Homo sapiens: one gene and its partners. The protein of the gene in region 5 purifies or fractionates together with the protein of the main gene of each other region. This does not show direct contact. Each region holds a gene or a part of one and is shown on either strand. Other genes may lie near its edges.

Region 1 (3,500 bases), on a different chromosome or scaffold from region 5:
ACCTCAGGTGATCCGCCTGCCTCGGCCTCCCAAGTGCTGGGATTACAGGCGTGAGCCACCGCGCCTGGCTGGAGCCGAAGTTTTTAAATAGTGGGGTGTAAATCAGAAATTTTTAGAAAAGTACAGGTGATCAACAACAAAAAGCAAATGATTCAAAGCAATTTGAGTAGTCAGGAGATAAATTCGTGTTAAAACAGTATTCCTTTTCTTACCTAGCATATTGGCAAAGATAAAGAAAAATAGCAAATTTTTAACAGAGATTCAAGAAAGATTGGCTTTTTTTTTTTTTTTTTTTTTTTCTGGAGATGGAGTCTCGCTCTGTTGCCAGACTGGAGTGCAGTGGTGTGATCTCGGCTAACTGCAACCTCTGCCTCCCGGATTCAAGCGATTCTCCTGCCTCAGCCTCCCGAGTGGCTGGGACTACAAGTGCACGAGATTGGCACTTTTTAATTCGCTGTTGATGGAAATGTATAAGTTAAAAAAAAACCTTCCTCTGCAATTTTTGTTTTGTTTTGTTTTGTTTTTGAGACAGAGTCTTGCTCTGTCATCCAGGCTGGAGTGCAGCGGCACGATCTCAGCTCACTGCAACCTAAACCTCCAGAGTTCAAGCGATTTTCCTGCCTCCGCCTCCTGAGTAGCTGAGATTACTGGCAACCGCCACCACAACCAGCTAGTTTTTTGTATTTTTAGTTGAGACAGGGTTTCGTCAGGTTGGCCAGGCTGGTGTCAAACTCCTGACCTCAAGTGATCCACCTGTCTCGGCCTCCTAATGTGCTGGACTTAACAGGCATGAGCCACCGTGCCCAGCCCCTCTGGAGTATCTTGATAGTATGTGGGTTTTTTGTTTTTCTTTTTTTTTTTTTTTTAACCGAGTTTCGCTCTTGTTGCCCAGGCTGGAGTGCAGTGGCGCAGTCTCGGCTCAGTGCAACCTCCGCCTCCTGGGTTCAAGTGATTGTCCTGTATTTTTAGTAGAGACGGGGTTTCACCATGTTTTCCAGGCTGGTCTCGAACTCCTGACCTCAGGTGATCCGCCCGCCTAGGCCTCCCAAAGTGCTGGGATTACAGGCGTAAGCCATCGCATCCGGCCCTTCTTTTTTCTTTTTAAGCATTAAAAATGTGCATACTCGGGCATGCGCAGTTTCTGTGGGAAAACATGTTCCTTAACTAAAAGGCAGCACATTTGCAACAAATAATTTTTCCCTCAAACAAGGACACTTGGGATAGGAAGAAGGGCAGAGCTGAGGACAGGTCTGATCCTGTTCAACTTTACTAAGAACCTGTTTTCTGCACTTCTACTTCCACAGCTCAGACAAGAACAGAACCTCTTCTGCTTGGGGGTGGGGCAGGGCTGTCTTGTGCGGAATGGCCTCATTCCTGGATTAGGAAGTGTTCCTAAGTAGTGAGGTGTCTCAGATGTTTATAAAGTGACCACTTGTGTAGTGCTCAGGGCATTGTTGCTTCTGTAAAGTGCGTATCATTTGATCTCATGCTGTAAATGATTCTGTCTTCAGGGCGCAAACCAGAAGAAGAGGGTGTGGAAGATAACGGGCTGGAGGAAAACTCTGGGGATGGACAGGTATGTGCAGCCTTGCGAGTGAGTAGCGTGGTGGATGGACCAGTGGCGGTCACATGATGGTTCGGTCTGGTTGTGTCACAGGAGGATGTTGAGACCAGTCTGGAGAACTTGCAGGACATCGACATCATGGATATCAGTGTGTTGGATGAAGCAGAAATTGATAATGGAAGCGTTGCAGATTGTGTCGAAGACGATGATGCTGATAACCTCCAGGAGTCCCTGTCGGATAGTAGAGAGCTAGTCGAGGGGGAAATGAAAGAGCTTCCGGAGCAGCTTCAGGAACATGCTGTAGGTAACCGGCAATGTCTCTAGAATGTGCCCTGAATGTATCAGTTCCACAATTAAAATAGGTGATCAGTTTCATATTGGGAAGTAAGTTGTTCTGTAATGCCAGTTCAGTAGAATAAGGGTCAGTTGGTTCAGATGATTCTGAACCAATTTGTTTTGTTGAAAGGTGATGTCTTATAACATTTCATATGTACTTGCTATCCATTTGCGGCATACAGTATGAGACATTTTGAGGACAACCATTCAGACTCTTCCTGTTGCCGGACTTGATCTGTGGTGTTATGGCCTAGGTACCTTGAAAGCATTGAACTAGGAAGAGGTTAGAAGTTGGTGTTTTCCTGTTAAGAAGCAATTGTTGAGCTGGGTGCCTTGATGCACTCATGTAATCCGGTAACTCAGAAAGCTGAGGTGGAAGGAGCAGCCCAGGAGTTCAAGGCTGTACTAAGCTATGATTGTGCAATTGAAGTCCAGCCTGGGTGGCAGAGTCTGACAGAACCCTATCTCTTGTTTAAAACAAACAAACAAAAAAAAAAACACAGCCAGTTGATACCTATCTTAAGAGTTAACCTCAAGTATTAACCTGGATGTTGTTTTTAAACCTAAATTTTTTTCCTGTTAGAAACATATCAAATGGATAGTAAGATTATAGTGGGTAGTATTTCCTGAATACTACCTACCAGGCATTGGCATTATGCCCTTCCTTTCTTTTTTTTTTTTTTTTTTTTTTTTTTCTGAGACAGAGTTTTGCTGTTGTTGCCCAGGCTGGAGTGCAGTGGCGCGATCTCAGCTCACTGCAACCTCTGCCCCCTGGGTTCAAGTGATCTCCTCCCTCAGCCTCCCAAGTGAGTAGCTGGGATTATAGGCGCCCACCACCAAGCCCGACTAATTTTCTTGTATCTTTAGTAGAGACGGTTTTCACCATGTTGGCCAGGCTGGTTTTGAACTCTTGACCTCAGGTGATCCGCCTGCCTCAGACTCCCAAAGTGCTGAGATTACAGGTGTGAGCCACCGCGCCCAGCATGTGCCCTTTAATTCTTCTAATAGCAACATGAGGTGCTGTTGTCCCCATTTTCAGTTGAGGAAATTGGGAAGGCAAGAACTAAAAAACATCTCCAGATGACACACAGCTCATAACAGAATAAGAACTAAGATCAGGCTAATTCCAGAGGCCATGTACTTAACTTATGTACGATGTTGTCTTGGTGCCATTAATTTGATATTAATTTCATTTACCTGATGATTAATGTTTGTCAGACAGAAAAAGTGATGCATATGAGAAGCTGTGGGGCCCTTTCTGTGTTGGCTCGTGGGGGGCCCTGTTCTTGTCCTGGTCCTTAGGTCTTCCGCAGTGAGTGCTTCTCAAGCAGTCTTGGTGGACAGAAACCTTGTTGTATGCCAGTCAATCCGCTTCTGCATTTCTTCAGAATATTTTTGCATTTCCTCTTGGAACTGATTCCAAGTATCCTTAGAGGTAGCAGATTGTCATATTTGAATGGAGGATTTGAGTCTGAGAAGTGGCTGAGAGTTATTCTGATACAAATAGGGTGTGCAATTTTTGGTGAGTCCCATTCATCAGCTTCTAAAAAGGAGTAGCAGAAACACTTGCACAGCAGCAGGAGTTACTTACCCTTCCTGA
Region 2 (3,500 bases), on a different chromosome or scaffold from region 5:
AGATACGTTGGCTGGTGATTAGAGTATTTCTTTGAGCTGCTGGAATTCAGAAACAAGCAGCTAGCAATGTGTCAGAGTACTAACATTTTGTGTTCATAAGGAATTTTTAAAAATGTGTTCAGAATTGGGAAGTATAAAATGAGGTTCTTAAGTCCATTAGGCATTAAAACCACATCCACACACGTTAATACTCTTGTTTATCCATTCCGAGATTTCTCTGTTGAAATTTTTAGGGGTTTCCTTTACTCTAGGGAAGCAGCAGGGTCGGGCCTTTGACTGATAGTAGTAGACTTGCTTGTGTGTTCCTGGCTTGGACAGGGAACAAGGGCAGGTGGCTCACCGTCCTGGGGGCCTAAGTGCAGAGCCTAACCACCCTCTGTGACCCCGAGTTAGTGCCCAGGTAGATTTGCCCCAGTAGCATGTGCTCTCTGCCTTTTTTTCCCTGCTTCCCTTCATGTTTGAAGGTCCTGCAAGGATAACATGCCCTCAGCCTGTGAACCAAAACAATCTGGTTATAAACCATCTTGCACTTGTTTCCATGTGGAGGGAGGAGCTAGGACGTGGGGGTGAGTTGGAAGCAGCAAGGTATGCTCACCTGGTGCTCTTCTGGTTCCTGCTGACAGTGCTCCTGTAGAAAGGACATGGTGAAGATCTCCATGGATGTGTTTGTGAGAAAGTTCCAGCCAGAAAGGTACAAACTTTGGAAAGCTGGGAAGGACAACACAGTTATTGACCATACTCTGCCCACGCCAGAAGCAGCTGAGTTTCTTAAGGAGAGTGAACTGCCTCCAAGAGCTGGCAACGAGGAGGAGTGCCCAGAGGAGGACATGGAAGGGGTGGAGGATGGAGAGGAAGGAGACCTGAAGACAAGGTAACCCAGCAGCCCTTTTGTCCTGGCTGCGTGAGGGAGGGATGTCTGGGTAGGTCCTGTAATCTGTGGAGAGGCTGTTTCTTGTTTTTTTTGTTTTGTTTTGTTTTTGTTTTTGTTTTTGTTTTTGATGGAGTCTCGCTCTGTCGCCCAGGCTGGAGTGCAGTGGTGCGATCTCGGCTCACTGCAAGCCCCGCCTCCCGGGTTCAGGCCATTCTTCTGCCTCAGCCTCCCGAGTAGCTGGGACTACAGGCACCTACAGCCACGCCTGGCTAATTTTTTGTATTTTTAGTAGAGACAGGGTTTCACTGTGTTAGCCAGGACGGTCTCGATCTCCTGACCTCGTGATCCGCCCACCTCGGCCTCCCAAAGTGCTGGGATTACAGGTGTGAGCCACCGCGCCCGGCCGAGGCTGTTTCTAAGATGCCGTTTGTGCCTTGGCTAAGGGAGTGTTCTTGGTAAAGGCTCCAGAAACCTGAGAGCCAGAGCATTCAGGCACTTTCTGAATGAGAGACCTGTAGTGGGCGTGTAGTCTGCTGGAGCAAGGCGTCAGTTATATGAGGGTCGGGGGCATTTATGTGCGAAGGTCGGGCTCCCTCTGAGCCAGAAAAGTCATGTTTTCTCATCATATCAGAGAGTCTTTTAAAAAGAAGTGTAGTGAGGATGAGACTCAAGGGCATTGGTAATGTCGTGATTTAAGTCTGCAGTGCTATTGGTGGCTGAGCCAGGGGATCTGTGCTCTGAGGAGAATTTATCCTGGGCCATATGGGAAAGAAAGGAGGAACCGTTCCTTGGTACCTGCTATATGCCAGGCACTTTGCCAGCTACTCTGCATACCTTTTCTTAATCCTCACAACAAATCTGTTAGGTGGGTGGTAATACCTGTATTTTCCAGATGATTGAACAAGGTCAGAGAGGTGAAGTCCCTTGTCTCAAGTCACAAATAAGAGGTGTCCCTGAGTTTTGAGCCAGGCCTGACAGGCTCTGGCCATTCACTTTGGGTTGTGTGTGGATGTGTATGAATGTGTTTGAGTAAGTGGATGTATATGTGGGCTCTTAAAAGATTTGCCCTCTCCCTTGCAGCCTGGCCAAGCACCGAATAGGGACAAAGAGGCACCGAGTTTGTCTTGAAATACCACAGGAGGTGAGTCAGAGTGAGCTCTTCCCCAAGGAGGATCTGAGTTCTGAGCAGTATGAGATGACGGAGTGCCCGGCAGCCCTCGCCCCTGTGAGGCCCACCCATAGCTCTGTGCGGCAAGTTGAGGATGGTCTTACCTTCCCAGGTTAGTTGACTATGGTGTATTTTCCACAACCCTAACTCATATATGTGTCCCGTGTTAGATGCCATATTGAGTGCTGGGTCAGAAATAAAAAAGGCAGAGTGACAGGTCCGTGAGCAGATAGCATACTTGGAGTGTGAGAAGTGCTTTGGGTAGGGATGTACAGGGAGGACTGGACACGTAGGGAAAAGCTCCTCCCTCTGCCTGGTCAGGGGTCAGGGAAACACTGGAGGTTTTGGTGAAGGTGACTCTTACAAGGTAAGTAGGACCTTCCCAGGCGGACAGAGAGAGAGGAGGGATGTAGAAAGGGAGTCCCAGATGGGAGGAGCAGGGCACAGGCATGGAGATGGGAATTTTTTTTTTTTTTTTTGAAATGGAGTCTTGCTCTGTCATGCAGGCTGGAGTGCAGGGGCGCAATCTTGGCTCACTGCAACTTCTGCCTCCTGGGTTCAAGCGATTCTCCTGCCTCAGCCTTCCAACTAGCTAGGACTACAGGTGCCTGCCACCATGCCTGGCTAATTTTTTTTTGTATTTTTAGTAGCGATGGGGTTTCACCGTGTTGGCCAGGCTGATCTTGAACTCCTGACCTCAGGTGATCCGCCTGCCTCGGCCTCCCAAAATGCCAAGTGGGATTACAGGCGTGAGCCACTGTTCCCAGCAGAGATGGGAAATATTAATAGCATGGTCCACTTGGGGGAACTGGTGGGGAGTTTCCCTCAATTGAATATTAGGGTGGAAGGCAGCTGTGTGACCAGAAGGTGACGCTGGAGAAATAGGAGATGATGTAGGGCTGTCTGCCATTTTCATTTGCTCACTTGGAAGCTTAAGAAGCCATTTATATTTTAAGAGAGGGAGTGGTGTGATCAGTGCTGTTTAGCAGTCACTTGGAAGGTCATTGAGGCTAGATTTGTTAGAGAAAGGCTTGTATCTGTCTTGGGTCAGGTATGACCCAAAGATGTGGTCTGCCGACAGCCAGGCAGCACTGTGGACTGACACCCTGGGCTGGGCTGGCTTCTCTTCAGCAGATTTTCTTTCCCTTTTTTCTCTTCAAATTTATTTATTTATATTGACAGATAAAATCGTGCATATTTGTCTTGTACAACATAATTTTTTTGTTTGTTTTAGAAACGGGGTCTTACTGTGTTGCCCAAGCCTTTGTGAACACAGCTCACTGCAGCCTCAACTTTCTGGGCTCAAGCAATCCTCTTGCCTCAGCCTCTCAAGTAGGTGGGACTACAGGCATACACCACGCCTGGCTAATTTTTTTTTTTTTTTTTTTTTTTTTGAGACGGAGTCTCACTCTGTCTCCCAGGCTGGAGTGCAAAGGCATGATCTTGGCTCACTGCAACCTC
Region 3 (2,907 bases), on a different chromosome or scaffold from region 5:
AGAGTCCTGGAAAAATGAAGACTAACATGTTAAAGCCACAAAAAACGGGGCCGCGCGTGGTGGCTCATGCCTGTAATCCCAGCACTTTGGGAGGCTCAGGCGGGCGGATCACTTGAGGTCAGGAATTCGGGACCAGCCTGGCCAACATGATGAAACCTTGTCTCTACTAAAAAAAGATACAAAAATTAGCCGGGCATGGTGGCTGGCACTTGTAATCCCAGATACTCGGGAGGCTGGGGCAGGAGAATTGCTTGAACATGGGAGGAGGAGGCAGTGAGCCGAGGTCACACCATTGCATTCCAACCTGGGTGACAGAGCGAGACTCTGTCTCAAAAAAAAAAAAAAAAAAAATCATTATTACACTTGGTCTTTTTTAAATTAAAAATAAAAATATCCTAGTTTCCACTAGTTCTAATACTTTGTTTTTAGTAAGGTTCCCTCTCAACACTTTGAGTGAATTACAGCTGTGTAATATTGGAAATGATTTAGTGTTTTATAAATAGTGAAAATAAATTTATATATTTTGATGCTGTAATCAGCAACAGGCTAAACATATTAAAGAAATAAAGTCCAGTTTCTTTTTTAATTTAAAAAAGTTTTACTTAATTGCTTAAATAAAAAATAACATTAAAATAATTTCTACATATAGTTACAAAGCATGGTAGAGCTTGAAAAAGCCTCTTGTAATTTTGAACAGATGAACATGATGTCTCCATGATGTTCTAACAATATGGAAAAGTTAAAACCAAAAGACTTCTAACCCTTGGTAAGACCAGAGGGATTAAAAGACCCCACTATGGACATATTCACTTTAGTCAACCACTTTTATGGAATGAACACTTGTGAGAGACTGGGTGTGAGCTGATCTGGTTCCAAGTGATCTGGAAGCTGAGGTACTACTTTCAGGATGAATGGTCCGGGGATATTTTGCTGCAGTTGCTTGAGGAATGGTTTGCTGAAAAGACAAAATTCTGCTTTAATAATATCCCAAGATTATGTATACTATGTATCATTTCATCATCTATCATCTATAATTTAACCCAATAAACATTTGTTAAGATCCAGTAGAAAGAAGCAATGAGTGGAGTGAAGCAGCTGTTAATTAGATGAGGCCTTTGTCTGTAAGGAACCCCTACCCAGTCTGACTGACATGTTCAACACCCACAGTGTAATATCAGAGCTATATCCACAAGGCTCATTAAGAAAGCCACGGCAGCCATTCCTCCAACAGGGCCAAGTGGAATCTTGTAATGTGTACAGAGGCTTTGTATACAGAGAGAAACTCTGTGGTGTCTGGAAGAGGGGTCAGCCCTGAGTCCTCCCCTCATTCCATCCAACTTCCTTCTCTCTACTTGACTGTTAGTATGTGGATGTGATTATCTCACAATCCCAGGGGCACACGGAAGCCCTCAGGATGCAGTCTGGTCCTTGCTTTAAACCAGAGCCCTCATATTTAACCTGGTTCACCTGGGAGCAGACTAAAACTTTTATGCACATCACCTCAGAGCTCAAAGGAACACCTCAGACATGAGCACTGAGTCATTAAAGTCAGGACACACGTGACTTACTTGACACACATAATATGCATGTAATGCATGTAAGTACACACTATGTATACAAGTACACATTTACATGTAAACATGAACAATATGTATCAGTACAAGGCTTTTCCCTATTAAACCCGATAAAGCTTCTTAGTAGCCAGCAGTGGGATTTGTTATCAAGTTCTCAGTCCATATCACTGACTAGGACATGTCAATTTCTATTAGGGTCTTCCACTTAGAAAAGTCATTGTTAAAATAGTTTAAGTAAAATTACATGTATTTGGTCAAAACATTCACTATGTATTTAAAAAACTCCAAGCTGTAGTTTTTGCTTAAAAAAAGAATGAAACTTCTTAAAAACAAAAGATCCTGTCAGATTCCATTTTAAAAAGAACAGAACTCCTTTTTAAAGAAAAATAACTTCTTTTCTTAAAGTATCTTATAAAAACGTTTATTTGTACATAAACAACTGGATAACCATTATAAATAGGAGATACTCTTGCAACAGATAAGAAATTTTAGTTGCCAGTCACCTAATTAGTTGCCAGCCACTAACCTGAGCCTGCCAAAAAGGCTTTCTCCTTGAGGAGGATGGGCAAGAGGAACTGTAGAAATAAAGTAGCCACTGAAATTATGATACACAAAATATGACAGAGAATGAAGTGGCCCTAGAAGCATGCAGTTACCCAGCAGATGAGGCTACAGTGTCACAAATCGCATCCTTGGTTTTTTAGTAATAACTATTTCTGGTAGATTTAGATCTTGATTCCCAGGGTGAAAAGAAATACAGTACAAATGACTGCCACTGTGTCTGTCACATAATCCAGGCAGCTGATGGCTATCTGGTTCATACACAGTTAGTGGGTAAGAAATGCACATACTGAATAAAGGGAGGGCAGCATGGGAGATAAGTATCAGAAACAAGGGTTCTAAATGTTTAGTACTTTGATTTTTCTTCTGTAAAATATGAATTCCCATCATTACTACAAAACAAAAGCTTGTCTAATAAAAAATAAACACACATGTGCTCTCTTTACACCTTCTTTACCTCACAAATGGACAGTCTCTCACCATCTCTATACATTTTCTACATCTGAAAAAACAGAAGTGGGTTTATTTCTTCTCATTTTTGATAACTTGTCTTCCATATTCAAAAATATATAGAAAAGTCTTCTACGAACTTTCAGAGTCTGTCCAACTTATGAAACATGAAACCTAAGATAATTCTAAAATAAATCCTCTGTCATCTCCATGTCTCTATCTGGACTTGGTGCTTCTATCTCCAGCCTTCCACCTCGCTAAGGTCCCACTTCACCTGAAGTTCAGTTCAAATCAATCCAGCTTGTCTTCATTTAATCATCTA
Region 4 (3,500 bases), on a different chromosome or scaffold from region 5:
AGCACAGGAATGAGATTCAGAAACTAACAAAAGGAAATGTGGGTGACTCACACATTTTTAGTACGGGACACTCAAAAGCCAAAAACTGCAATATAGGCAACAGAAAAATTAGTCCTGGTGAGGAAAATAAGGACTTTGGTTTCCACACAGGGAACTTGGAACTTAAGATTCCTATAGTAAACTCAAAGAGATATGTCTAAAAACCAGTTGGACATACTTGTTTAGAGATATGTCTAAAAACCAGTTGGGCATAATTATTTGGAGGTATGTCTAAAAACCAGCTGGACATACTTGTTTGGAGCTCAGGAAAAAAGTGGGGGTTAGAACAGACATGGGAGCCATGAGTATCCTACCACTGGTACTTCCTCAGGGGCAGATGCTTCAGAATAATCGATGAGACTTACATATATATATATGCCCGGTCCCATGCCTGGAAATTCTGATTCAGTAGGTCTTGGCTGGGACCTAGAAATCTCTATTTAAAAAAAAAAAAAAAGCTCCATAGATGATTCTGAAGAATACAGACTCACTGATGCAGACAGGGTTTAAGCTTGAGGACTGAATGAGAAATGTTATGTAGTATTTCAGAGTAAGAAAAAAGGGTAAAGACAGAATCAATATTGTAAGGCAAAGGGAAAAGAACCAGAAGAAGAGACTGAGAAAGAACAGCTAGAAAGACAGAAGAAAATGCTGTCTTGAAATTAAGGAGGAAGGCAGCTTCAAGAAAGAAGAGTGATCAGTGGCGTTCAATGTCACTGATCAAGTAGAACAGACCTGTAAGATCCACCTCTTAAACATTAATCAGTTAAACCAGGATCTGCCATGCCAGATCAGACAACAGTGTGATATGGTTTGGCTGTGTCCCCACCCAATCTCATCTTGAGTCGTACTCCCATAATTTCCACATGTTGTGGGAAGGACCCAGTGGGAGATAATTTGAATCATGGAGGTGGTTTCCCCAATACTGTTCTCATGGTAGTGAATAAATCTCATGAGATCTGATGGTTTTATCAGGGGTTTCTGCTTTTGCATGTCTCTCATTTTCTCTTGCCGCCACCACGTAATAAGTGCCTTTCGCCTCCTGCCATGATTCTGGGGCCTCCACAGCCACACACAGAACTGTAAGTCCAATTAAACCTCTTTTTCTTCCCAGTCTCGGGTGTGTCTGTATCAGCAGTGTGAAAAAGGACTAACATACAGTGTATCCTAGTGAATTCTATTCTTTAGCCTTCTTTTCATTAACATCAGTGTTTTCCATTCAAAAGCATATGCACAGATGTGAAATACAAGTCAAACCAGACAATGGGACTGATTTTTTTTTTTTTTAGACAGAGTCTTGCTCTGTCACCCAGGCTGGGGTGCAGTGGCGAGATCTCGGCTCACTGCAAGCTCCGCCTCCTGGGTTCATGCCATTCCCCTGCCTCAGCCTCCCGAGTAGCTGGGACTACAGGTGCCCGTCACCACGCCCTGCTAATTTTTTGTATTTTTAGTAGAGACGGGGTTTCACCGTGTTAGCTGGGATGGTCTCGATCTCCTGACCTCGTGATCCACCCGCCTCGGCCTCCCAAAATGCTAGGATTACAGGCGTGAGCCACCACGCCCAGCCAATGGACTGATTTTTTTAAAGATTACAGACAAATGACAATCCAGGGATAAAATGTCTCACTCATCTACTTATTTTAATGTTCCCAGTGGCAGGGTAGGTAACAATGAATTGCAACAGCATCTACCTATCTGAGAAATAAAGGTCAGTGCAAGCAAATGATTCCCAAAGCTTTTTATTCCTCAACTCCTTGGGGATACTGCCGTCCCAGCCTGTGTAACACAATACACCTTCGGGAACAGCAGGCGGGGGAACTAGGATTTGTCCTTTTTTTGTCAAGGGAAATCTTAACATTTCAGAAGAAAGGAGTACATAAGAAAGATTTAGGGAAGTAAAGGAGCTGAAGTCGCTTAGTTCATGAAGCAATAAGCACTGCTCACTGCCTACAGCTGAGGCCTGCACTGCTTTCAGTTTTTTAGTAAGTCCCTCACAGCAACCCTCAGTTTGTGAAACTGATATATTTTTCTACGTCATCTCCTTTCTTCATCTCTGAAGAAACCGCTAAGCCTTTTCAGTGTTTATACCTGTAGAGAATATACCAGAATGCATAAACTCCATAAGAGCAGAATAGATTTTGTCATATAGACCTGCCACATTGCTGGCACCGAACATAAGCGCTTGCTATATGGCAGCCACTAATAAATTGTTTGAAATTCCTTGAGGACAACTTTAAGTGATCTCTGAAACAGACATAAATAGATGGTGTCTCAATGTGTTACCCAGGCAGGTCTCAAACTCCTGGTCTCAAGCAATCCTCCCACCTCAGCCTCCCAAAGTCCTCGGATTACAAGCATGAACCACCATGCCCATCAAACAACTTTTGATCTCTTGATAGTAACAAACTTTGATGCAGGTCCATTAATAGAGGTTTTTTGAGCTATAAGATTCTATGTTCAAATTCAGGCTCTAGCAATAATTAGTTAGGTGACCTTAGCCAAAGGACTTAACTCCCTGAGTCTCAATTTCCTCACTAATAAAATAATTATCCGTAACTACCATTCAGCATTGTTATAAGGTTTAAGAACAGCGGACAATCTGGGCTCAGTAACTTTGCAGAAACTGAAAACGTCAGTAGTCCCAAATTCAAATTTAGAAGTTATTTTCACCGAATAACAACAGCAACAAAAACAAACAGATTATTTGAATCATTTCTATAGATTCAAATGAAGCATTTATAAACTATTCATTAGAATGAGACAAACCCAAGAATAAGGATAAAGACATTTCTATGGTGATCATTTCTGTCAGTTCCTAGTAATCTTCCACTGACCCCTCCCTATTCTTTTCTGCATCAAATTTAAACTTATGGCTGAAAACATCAGAATAATTTTAGGATTACTGCCAGCTATTTTGACTCCTTCTCACCTACACTGTAGGGCAAGCTGGAAAAGTTAAAATGCATGAACGCTTCTTGCTATTTAAAAGTAACACTGGGCCGCTGATAGTTCTTTCCCACCACTGGCCTTTATACGGTCCTTATCCTCCAAACTTCTCTGCACAAGTTTGAAGTGTTTACTAATCCCTCCTTGAAACAGTTTCCCTTCCCTAATTTGTGTGAAACTATACTCTCATGATTTTCAACCCTCTATTGAATCTTCCAATTTTCCTCTGTCATCTTTGCCAATCTAATCCATTTCCAATCTCAGCTATAACCGCTCTTTGGATACAGTGTGTATATCCAGCTCTGGCCTCTCAATCAAGTTCCAATCCCAGGATTCCAACTGGGTATTTTTTTCCTTTTTTATTGTCCCCCAGTTTTGTTAATTGACAAAAAATTATACTTATGGTATACAATGCAAAGTTTAGATACATGTATACTTTGTGAAGTGATTAAATCAAGCTCATTAACATATCTGTCACCTCACATACTTGTCATTTTTGTGGGGAGACCATTTAA
Region 5 (3,478 bases):
CTACACAAATGCAGAATGAAAACAGCATTTCAACTCCACCAAAAGTAGTCATCGTAAAAGGTGTAAAAGTCACCTAACTTCACTAGGCACTGTTCACTTTTTAAACAAGAGACAATAAAAAATATTGCCCACAAACAATATCCCAGCTCTAGGGCAGGTTTCAGAAAGTCTTCATGCTTTAATAGCGACCTGGGAAGAAAAGAATGAACATGCTTTAATATTAAGTGAACTAATTATCAAGTATACTTTAATGCCGAGAATTTCAGAATATTCTGCCATTAAGAAATTCCTATGTGCCAGAACCCCACCACCCCCAAATAGAGAAAGACTTCCATGTAAGTATTACACCAGAAATGAGATAGCAATCTTAAATAACAGAAATTGCTGGGAAGTATATAACTCAATCTGAGAACTAAAGGGCTAAGTAATCCATGTTTCTGTGCTGTCCAAAAATTTTTAAGGACTCTTGAAAAGCTACTAAATGGTGGAAATACATTATTTACTGTTTCAATTAGAAACAACAGGAGTCTCTGAGCCTACTCTGGGTAAATGGTGGAAATACATTATTTACTATTTCAGTTAGAAACAACAGGAGTCTCCGAGCCTACTCTGGCTCAGGAGGCTGTCCAATTTTTCCTTCTTAAAAAATAATAGGATTCTAAGGGTTGTTTCCACAAACTTTCTTGAACCAAAAAATGTTCAGGATGTGTGGAGAATCATTAGGTATGAAACTACCTGAAACCAATCCATTATCTGATAAAGGGAATACACTGTCATCAGAGCAAGCCATACTACAATATAAACAATCATATTAAGATAAAAACTTACGAGGTGAGTATGATCGAGATCTGGAACGTGATCTGTATCCTCCACGACTATAGTAAGGAGAAGGTGACCGCCTTCTATAAACAAATGTCAAGATTGTCTAAGTCTCAATAGATCACAATTAGACCAAACATATAAATTTATGACTATATATACTGCCCTTTCATCAGTTCCCCAAAAAAGGAAAGCTGCATGAACCTTCAAGGTCTGTTTAAATCTTGAGAATGAAGCACATTATCAGGCCCAAGTGTCAAATAAGCACTCTTAATAACTTTAAGGTCAAATAATCCTTGCTATATTTTAATCTACTTACTTTTTAAATTTTGTGAACTATGTTAAGAGAGTTTTGTAAAAGAAAATTCCTGGCTGGGTGCGGTGGCTCAACGCCTATAATCCCAGCACTTTGGGAGGCCAAGGCAGGAGGATCACTTGAGGCCAGGAGTTTGACCAGCCTGACCAACATGGTGAAAACCTGTCTCTACTAAAAAAAAAAAATTAGCTCTGTGCGGTGGTGCATGCTTGTAATCCCAGCTACTCGGGATGCAGAGACTGCAGTGAGCTCAAATTGCTCCACTGTACTCCAGCCTAGGCAACAGAGCAACACTCTGTCTCCAAAAATTAAAAATAAAAATGAGAAAATTCCCATACCATTAAATAATCCCAACAGCACCCTCTTGAACACCCAAAACTAATTTCACAAGTGCTTCAGGATTTAGCTTTGTGTTAAAAAGGCTGGCTTGAATGTTCTTGTGCTATTTGAGATGCTTACTTTTAAAAAGCAAGGAAAATGTAATACAAGAACATAATGACAAAAAAAATGAGTTATCAGTGACTAACATCACTGTACCTCATCACGGTATAAAATGGTATCACTAAATAATCTATTGCAAAACCAATTAATTTTTATAAATATACAAAGACTTTATACATTTAGTTTCCGTTAGAATATTTTCATGAGCTTCAAACAGTCTGATTTTGGGTATTCCACTTATAATTTACCAAAACATTACTAGGCAAACATCTTTATGTGAAGCTTTATACTGTTGTACAGATGCTAAGTCCTCTCCTGGCATACCTATAAATCTGATCCCTGTCTTGGGCAGCTCTCCATCCTCCTCCTCCTCCACCTCCTCCTCTGTGAAGACAGAAAGGCAACACAACACGCATTCAGTTTGTAAGTTTTAAAAAATTATGTCATTCATTTAGTAAAATAAAAACTTTCATAGAGCATGAATGAGATGTTTCTTGCAGGTCAAGTGATTTGCCACCCTTTTTAGAAACTGGCATAGGGTTCTCTCTGGTGGCTGAAATAAGTAGTATTAGAACACAGAACATTCCTAAGTAAATGCTCTTAAAAAAAAAAATCAAACTAAGAAAAAAATCTCAGCCCCAACAAATTTGTACCTTTAGTACCATTCAATAGAGTGATGCTTTAAATAAAAAAAGGGTTTTCATGGGTGATAAAATGCTGAACAATACACTTACAGACTCACTTTCAGACAATGACTGACAACTGTTAACTTCTTAAACATTGCCAAATAATGCACAAAATAGACATCCATATACCTCAATACCATTATCAATGACAACTGTGGTCAATACTTACTAACTACATTATTTGACTTGTCAAATTACACATTTTGACAAGGGAGGACCAAAATGTCACAATTTTACTTCATTTTTATCTTTGGAAGTATTCTCAAAGATATCTTTATTTTTAAACTATGATTGACATTTCCCTACCCAAACCCCGAAATACCAAATTTTTGGCAAAAATAAAAAGCCACATACCCTTGTCATACTAAATTAACATCTTTAAAATTATTCTCTGGACTCTTTCAAGGCATCCATTTTACCTGCCCTCAGTGTACGATGCATGCATTAAGAGATTACAAGAAACTGCCTGAAAAGTGTTGGCTTTCCAAAATGGCTTATGAAATTTGCTTTTATAAGCCATTATAAATTTGCTTTTAAAAGGCTAAGACAGAGGCTATAATTTTTTCTTTTAAGGTGGGGTCTTGCTCTGGGGGAGGAGACTCAGGTGGGAGCGTACTTGGCTCACTGCAGCTTCAACCTCCCCGGCTTCCTGCCTCATTTTTTGTGGAGGTTCCCTATGCTGCTCAGGCTGGTCTCAAATTCCCGGGCTCAAGCAATTCCCCTGCCTCAGCCTATAATTTTGCTTTCACTATGTATTCATTTATTTATTTTTTTTTTTGAGTCTCTCGCTCTGTTGCCTACAGTGGAGTGCAGTGGTGCAATCTAAATTCACTGCAACCTCTGCCTGCCGGGTTCAAGCAATTCACCTGCCAGTAGCTGGGACTACAGGCGTGCACCACCACAACCGGCTAAATTTTTATTTCTGGTAGAGACGGGGTTCACCATGTTGGCCAGGCTGGATCTCAGGTGATCTGCCTGCCTTGGCCTCCTGAAGTGTTGGGATTACAGGCGTGAGCTACTGCGCCTGGCCTCATTCAATGTTTAAAAATAAAACACATTTTATTATTAATATTCCAAGTTATCATTTAAATCCCATTTATATTCTAGAATATTTGAACAGAAATCCAGTTACACATTAAATTGATTAAGACACAGAACCTTAGAATCTGATTTAACTTTCTACTCTGCATTTCTCGAGTAAAAGTACTAAAGCAAA
Region 6 (3,500 bases), on a different chromosome or scaffold from region 5:
ACCTGCTTGGCAGCCGCAGCCCCATCCATTTCCGCCTCCACCAGCTTGGACATGAGGCACTCCTTCTCCTGTTGTAGGTGTTTCTTCTGAAGTCTGGGGCCAGAAAGACGGCTCTGTGAGCCCTCCCAGGCCCCCGCATGCCCAGAGATCCAAGGCTTGCCTCACAATGCCCTAGGGGGCTCACCTCTGGTCAGGGAAAAGTAGGGGAGGGGGCAGGGACAGCCCTTCTGGCCTGGGTGGCCTTCAGAAAGGACCAGGGCCAGAAGTTACATCTGCCTGGGCACCAGACCAGGGCCTCCACACCAGGAGACATTAGCTACCTGTGGCCCTGTTTCTCTCAAACAGCCACCATTGTCATCTCTGCACTGCCCCCCTCCACTGTCACGCCCTCCTACGCACCATCTTCAGATACGATTTTGAGCCCTTCTACCTCTTCTCTACACTGCAGCCAAGGCTAGTCAGGCCACCTCCCTGCTTTTAAAACTTCCATGGCTGTAGGCTGGATACAGTGGCTAAAGCCTGTAATCCCAGCACTTTGGGAAGCCGAGGTGGGCAGATCACTTGAGATCAGGTGTTATCGAGAGCAGCCTGGCCAACAGCTAAAACCCCATCTCTACTAAAAATACAAAAGTTAGCCGGGCATGGTAGTGGGCACCTGTAATTCCAGTTACTTGGGAGGCTGAGGCAGGAGGATTACTTTAGTCAAGGAGGCGGACATTGCAGTGAGCCAGGATCACGCCACTGCACTCCAGCCTGGATGACAGAGCGAGACTCCATCTCAAAAATTTTGAGATGCCTCCCAGGATCAAGCAGTTCTCCTGCCTCAGCCTCCAGAGTAGCTAGGATTATAGGCGCCCGCCGCGACGCCCGGCTTAATTTTTGTATTTTTAGTAGAGACAGGGTTTCACCATGTTGGCCAGGCTGGTCTCGAACTCCTGACCTTGTGATTTGCCCGCCTTGGCTCCCAAAGGGCTGGGATTACAGGCGTGAGCCACCACGCCCGGCCAAATAAATTAATTAAATAAAATAAATCCTTTCCATGGCTTCCAAATGCCCTCAATGCAAATGCCTCAAAGTGGCTGCTGAGAGCCAGCCCCCTGCCAACCTATGTGGCCCCCTTATCCTCTGCCCACCCACTCTGGCCTGCCTTCCATTTCTCAGCTACAAACACTTTCCCACCTTGGGGCCTTCGCATAAGATGTTCCCACTGAGTAGCGTGCTTTCTTCCCTAGCACCCACCTGCCGAATGCTTAACCATCCTGCAGGACACCCCTTAAATATCACTTGTTCCAGAAACAGTTCCCTGCTACCCAGTCCCACACCACAATCCACGGGGTCCTCCCTTTCCCTCATAGTACAAATCATAAGCACAACCAGGTAATTAACTGTAATTAATTGTGTGACTGTTGAACAGGCTCCAGGGCACAGGCACAGTGCCTGTGCCCACCTCCTACGTTGCTTTCCATTATTGCCCAGGGCTCAAGGCAGCCTGGTAGGGAGGAATAGATCAGCGGGGACAGAGCAGGAGCCACCTTACATGGTGAAGTCCTTCTCCTCCTTCATGCGCTCGATGTTGTGCCTCAACACCGTGTTCTCGTGCTCAGTCTCAGCCAGTTCGTGGGCCACCTCCTCCAGCTCTTCCTTCCGTTCCTCCAGGAACCTTTTGGCCATCTGGCGCTCACCTTTTTGCATCTTGACCTGAGCAGGGGGACCCAGGCAGGGGCCACTGAAGGGAGGTCCTTCCTCTATGCCACATTGCTAGGCTCAATGCTTTGGACCAAAATAAGGCCCCGGCCGGGCGTGGTGGCTCACGCCTGTAATCCCAGCACTTTGGGAGGCCAAGGTGGGTAGGTCACTTTTGGTCAGGAGTTCGAGACCAGCCTGACCAACATGGTGAAACCCCATCTCTACTGAAAATACAAAAATTAGCCAGATGTGGTGGCACATGCCTGTGATCCCAGCTACTCTGGAAGCTGAAGCAAGAGAGTCGCCTGAACCCAGGAGCCAGAGGTTGCAGTGAGCCGAGATCGTGCCCACTGCACTCCAGCCTGGGCGGACAAGAGTGAGACTCCATCTCAAAAAAAAAAAAACAAAAACAAAAAAATAAGGAGCCTTCCAATTGAGAACTACACAGGCTGCATGCCAGGGCCTTATGGGTGCAATCTCAGTTAACTGCCATGAAGACTGACTCTCCTGGGAGATGCTGATTTTCTTTTTGTAGATGAGGAAACTCAGTACAGAGAGCCCCAGTGACTTGTGGGTTGGGAACGAAGCCAGGTTGCAAACCGTGGTTTGGCTGGCACACCATAGGAGGAGAGATGTCACAAAAAGGCTCTTGCACTTTGAGTTATAGGGGAAGAAGGGCTTTTTTTTTTTTTCTTTTGAAACAGGGTCTCACTCTGTCATCCAGGCTGGAGTGCAGCGGTACGATCTCAGCTCACTGCAACCTCTGCCTCCTGGGTTCAAGTGATTCTTCTGCCTCAGCCTCCCAAGTAGCCGGGATTACAGGCGTGTGCCTGGCAAATTTTTGTATTTTTAGTAGAGATGGGGTTTCACCATGTTGGCCAGGCTGGTCTTGAACTCCTGACCTCAAGTGATCTGCCCTCCTCAGTCTCCCAAAGTGCTAGGATTATAGGCATGAGCCACCACGCCTGGCCAAGAAGGGCCTATTCTAGGCAGCCAGCCCTAGGTTCTCCAGGAGGTTCCCTGGACCTCGAGTACAGGGTGGAGGATTAAAGACACAGGTCGTGTTAGCAGTGAAGACATAGGCTGACATAGCAATCCAAGTCTAAGGCCTGGATTTTAATGACAACTCTGCCAATTTCCTAGTTGGGGACCTTGGACTTCCAGGTTCTATTTCCAATTCCATTGTCACATCCCACCCCAAGAGAGAGCACGGCAACTGAGGACAAACTTCCTTGGCCTCTTTGGGGCTTTGTTTTTGTTAATTTTTTTATTTATATATATATATATATATATATATATATTTTTTTTTTTTTTTTTTTTTTTTTTTTTTTTTTTTGAGACAGAGACTCTCTCTGTCGCCCAGGCTACAGTGCAATGGCACAATCTCAGCTCACTGCAACCTCTGGCTCCTGGGTTCAAGCAATTCTACCACCTCAGCCTCCTGAGCAGCTGAGACTACAGGTGCACGCCACCACGCATGGCTAATTTTTGTTTTTTAGTAGAGACAGGGTTTCACCGTGTTGGTCAGGCTGGTCTCGAACTCCTGACCTCAGGGGATCCGCCTCCCAAAGTGCTGGGATTACAGGCGTGAGCCACCATGCCCGGCCTGTTTTTGTTAAACCTTATATAAAGCGGAAGGCATAGGCCCTAGTTTCCTAGGTATTTCATCTCTGTAATGAGGACAGTAACACCACTGGCTTCACATGCTGTTGTAAAAATTCAAATTGGACCACCCATGTGGAGCACCAGGACAGCTACATGCTCAATAGAGAGGGCCCTTGTTGGTGGGATGGGATCCCATGCTGCCCCAGCTA

What was found.
Region 1: the proteins of TRA2B (region 5) and SAFB fractionate together in Homo sapiens (co-fractionation; one large-scale study listed by BioGRID). This does not show direct contact.
Region 2: the proteins of TRA2B (region 5) and KDM4A purify together in Homo sapiens (affinity purification with mass spectrometry; one large-scale study listed by BioGRID and IntAct). This does not show direct contact.
Region 3: the proteins of TRA2B (region 5) and POC5 purify together in Homo sapiens (co-immunoprecipitation; one large-scale study listed by IntAct). This does not show direct contact.
Region 4: the proteins of TRA2B (region 5) and DDX47 fractionate together in Homo sapiens (co-fractionation; one large-scale study listed by BioGRID). This does not show direct contact.
Region 6: the proteins of TRA2B (region 5) and ODF2 purify together in Homo sapiens (co-immunoprecipitation; one large-scale study listed by IntAct). This does not show direct contact.

Annotation. Positions count from the first base shown.
Region 1 is NC_000019.10:5,640,083-5,643,582, forward strand, and holds part of SAFB (scaffold attachment factor B1), read left to right. Parts: intron 1-1,511; coding exon 1,512-1,576; intron 1,577-1,657; coding exon 1,658-1,864; intron 1,865-3,500. UniProt on the Homo sapiens protein: Binds to scaffold/matrix attachment region (S/MAR) DNA and forms a molecular assembly point to allow the formation of a 'transcriptosomal' complex (consisting of SR proteins and RNA polymerase II) coupling transcription and RNA processing.
Region 2 is NC_000001.11:43,667,149-43,670,648, forward strand, and holds part of KDM4A (lysine-specific demethylase 4A), read left to right. Parts: intron 1-595; exon of another isoform or gene 596-623; coding exon 624-871; intron 872-1,951; coding exon 1,952-2,151; intron 2,152-3,500. UniProt on the Homo sapiens protein: Histone demethylase that specifically demethylates 'Lys-9' and 'Lys-36' residues of histone H3, thereby playing a central role in histone code. Does not demethylate histone H3 'Lys-4', H3 'Lys-27' nor H4 'Lys-20'.
Region 3 is NC_000005.10:75,673,624-75,676,530, forward strand, and holds the end of POC5 (centrosomal protein POC5), read right to left. Parts: intron 956-2,907; coding exon 812-955; 3' UTR 501-811; downstream 1-500. UniProt on the Homo sapiens protein: Essential for the assembly of the distal half of centrioles, required for centriole elongation. Acts as a negative regulator of centriole elongation.
Region 4 is NC_000012.12:12,816,346-12,819,845, reverse strand, and holds part of DDX47 (probable ATP-dependent RNA helicase DDX47), read right to left. Parts: intron 1-3,500. UniProt on the Homo sapiens protein: Required for efficient ribosome biogenesis. May have a role in mRNA splicing. Involved in apoptosis.
Region 5 is NC_000003.12:185,917,537-185,921,014, forward strand, and holds part of TRA2B (transformer-2 protein homolog beta), read right to left. Parts: intron 1,961-3,478; coding exon 1,901-1,960; intron 903-1,900; coding exon 829-902; intron 190-828; coding exon 179-189; 3' UTR 1-178. UniProt on the Homo sapiens protein: Sequence-specific RNA-binding protein which participates in the control of pre-mRNA splicing. Can either activate or suppress exon inclusion. Acts additively with RBMX to promote exon 7 inclusion of the survival motor neuron SMN2.
Region 6 is NC_000009.12:128,469,506-128,473,005, reverse strand, and holds part of ODF2 (outer dense fiber protein 2), read right to left. Parts: intron 1,699-3,500; coding exon 1,538-1,698; intron 94-1,537; coding exon 1-93. UniProt on the Homo sapiens protein: Seems to be a major component of sperm tail outer dense fibers (ODF).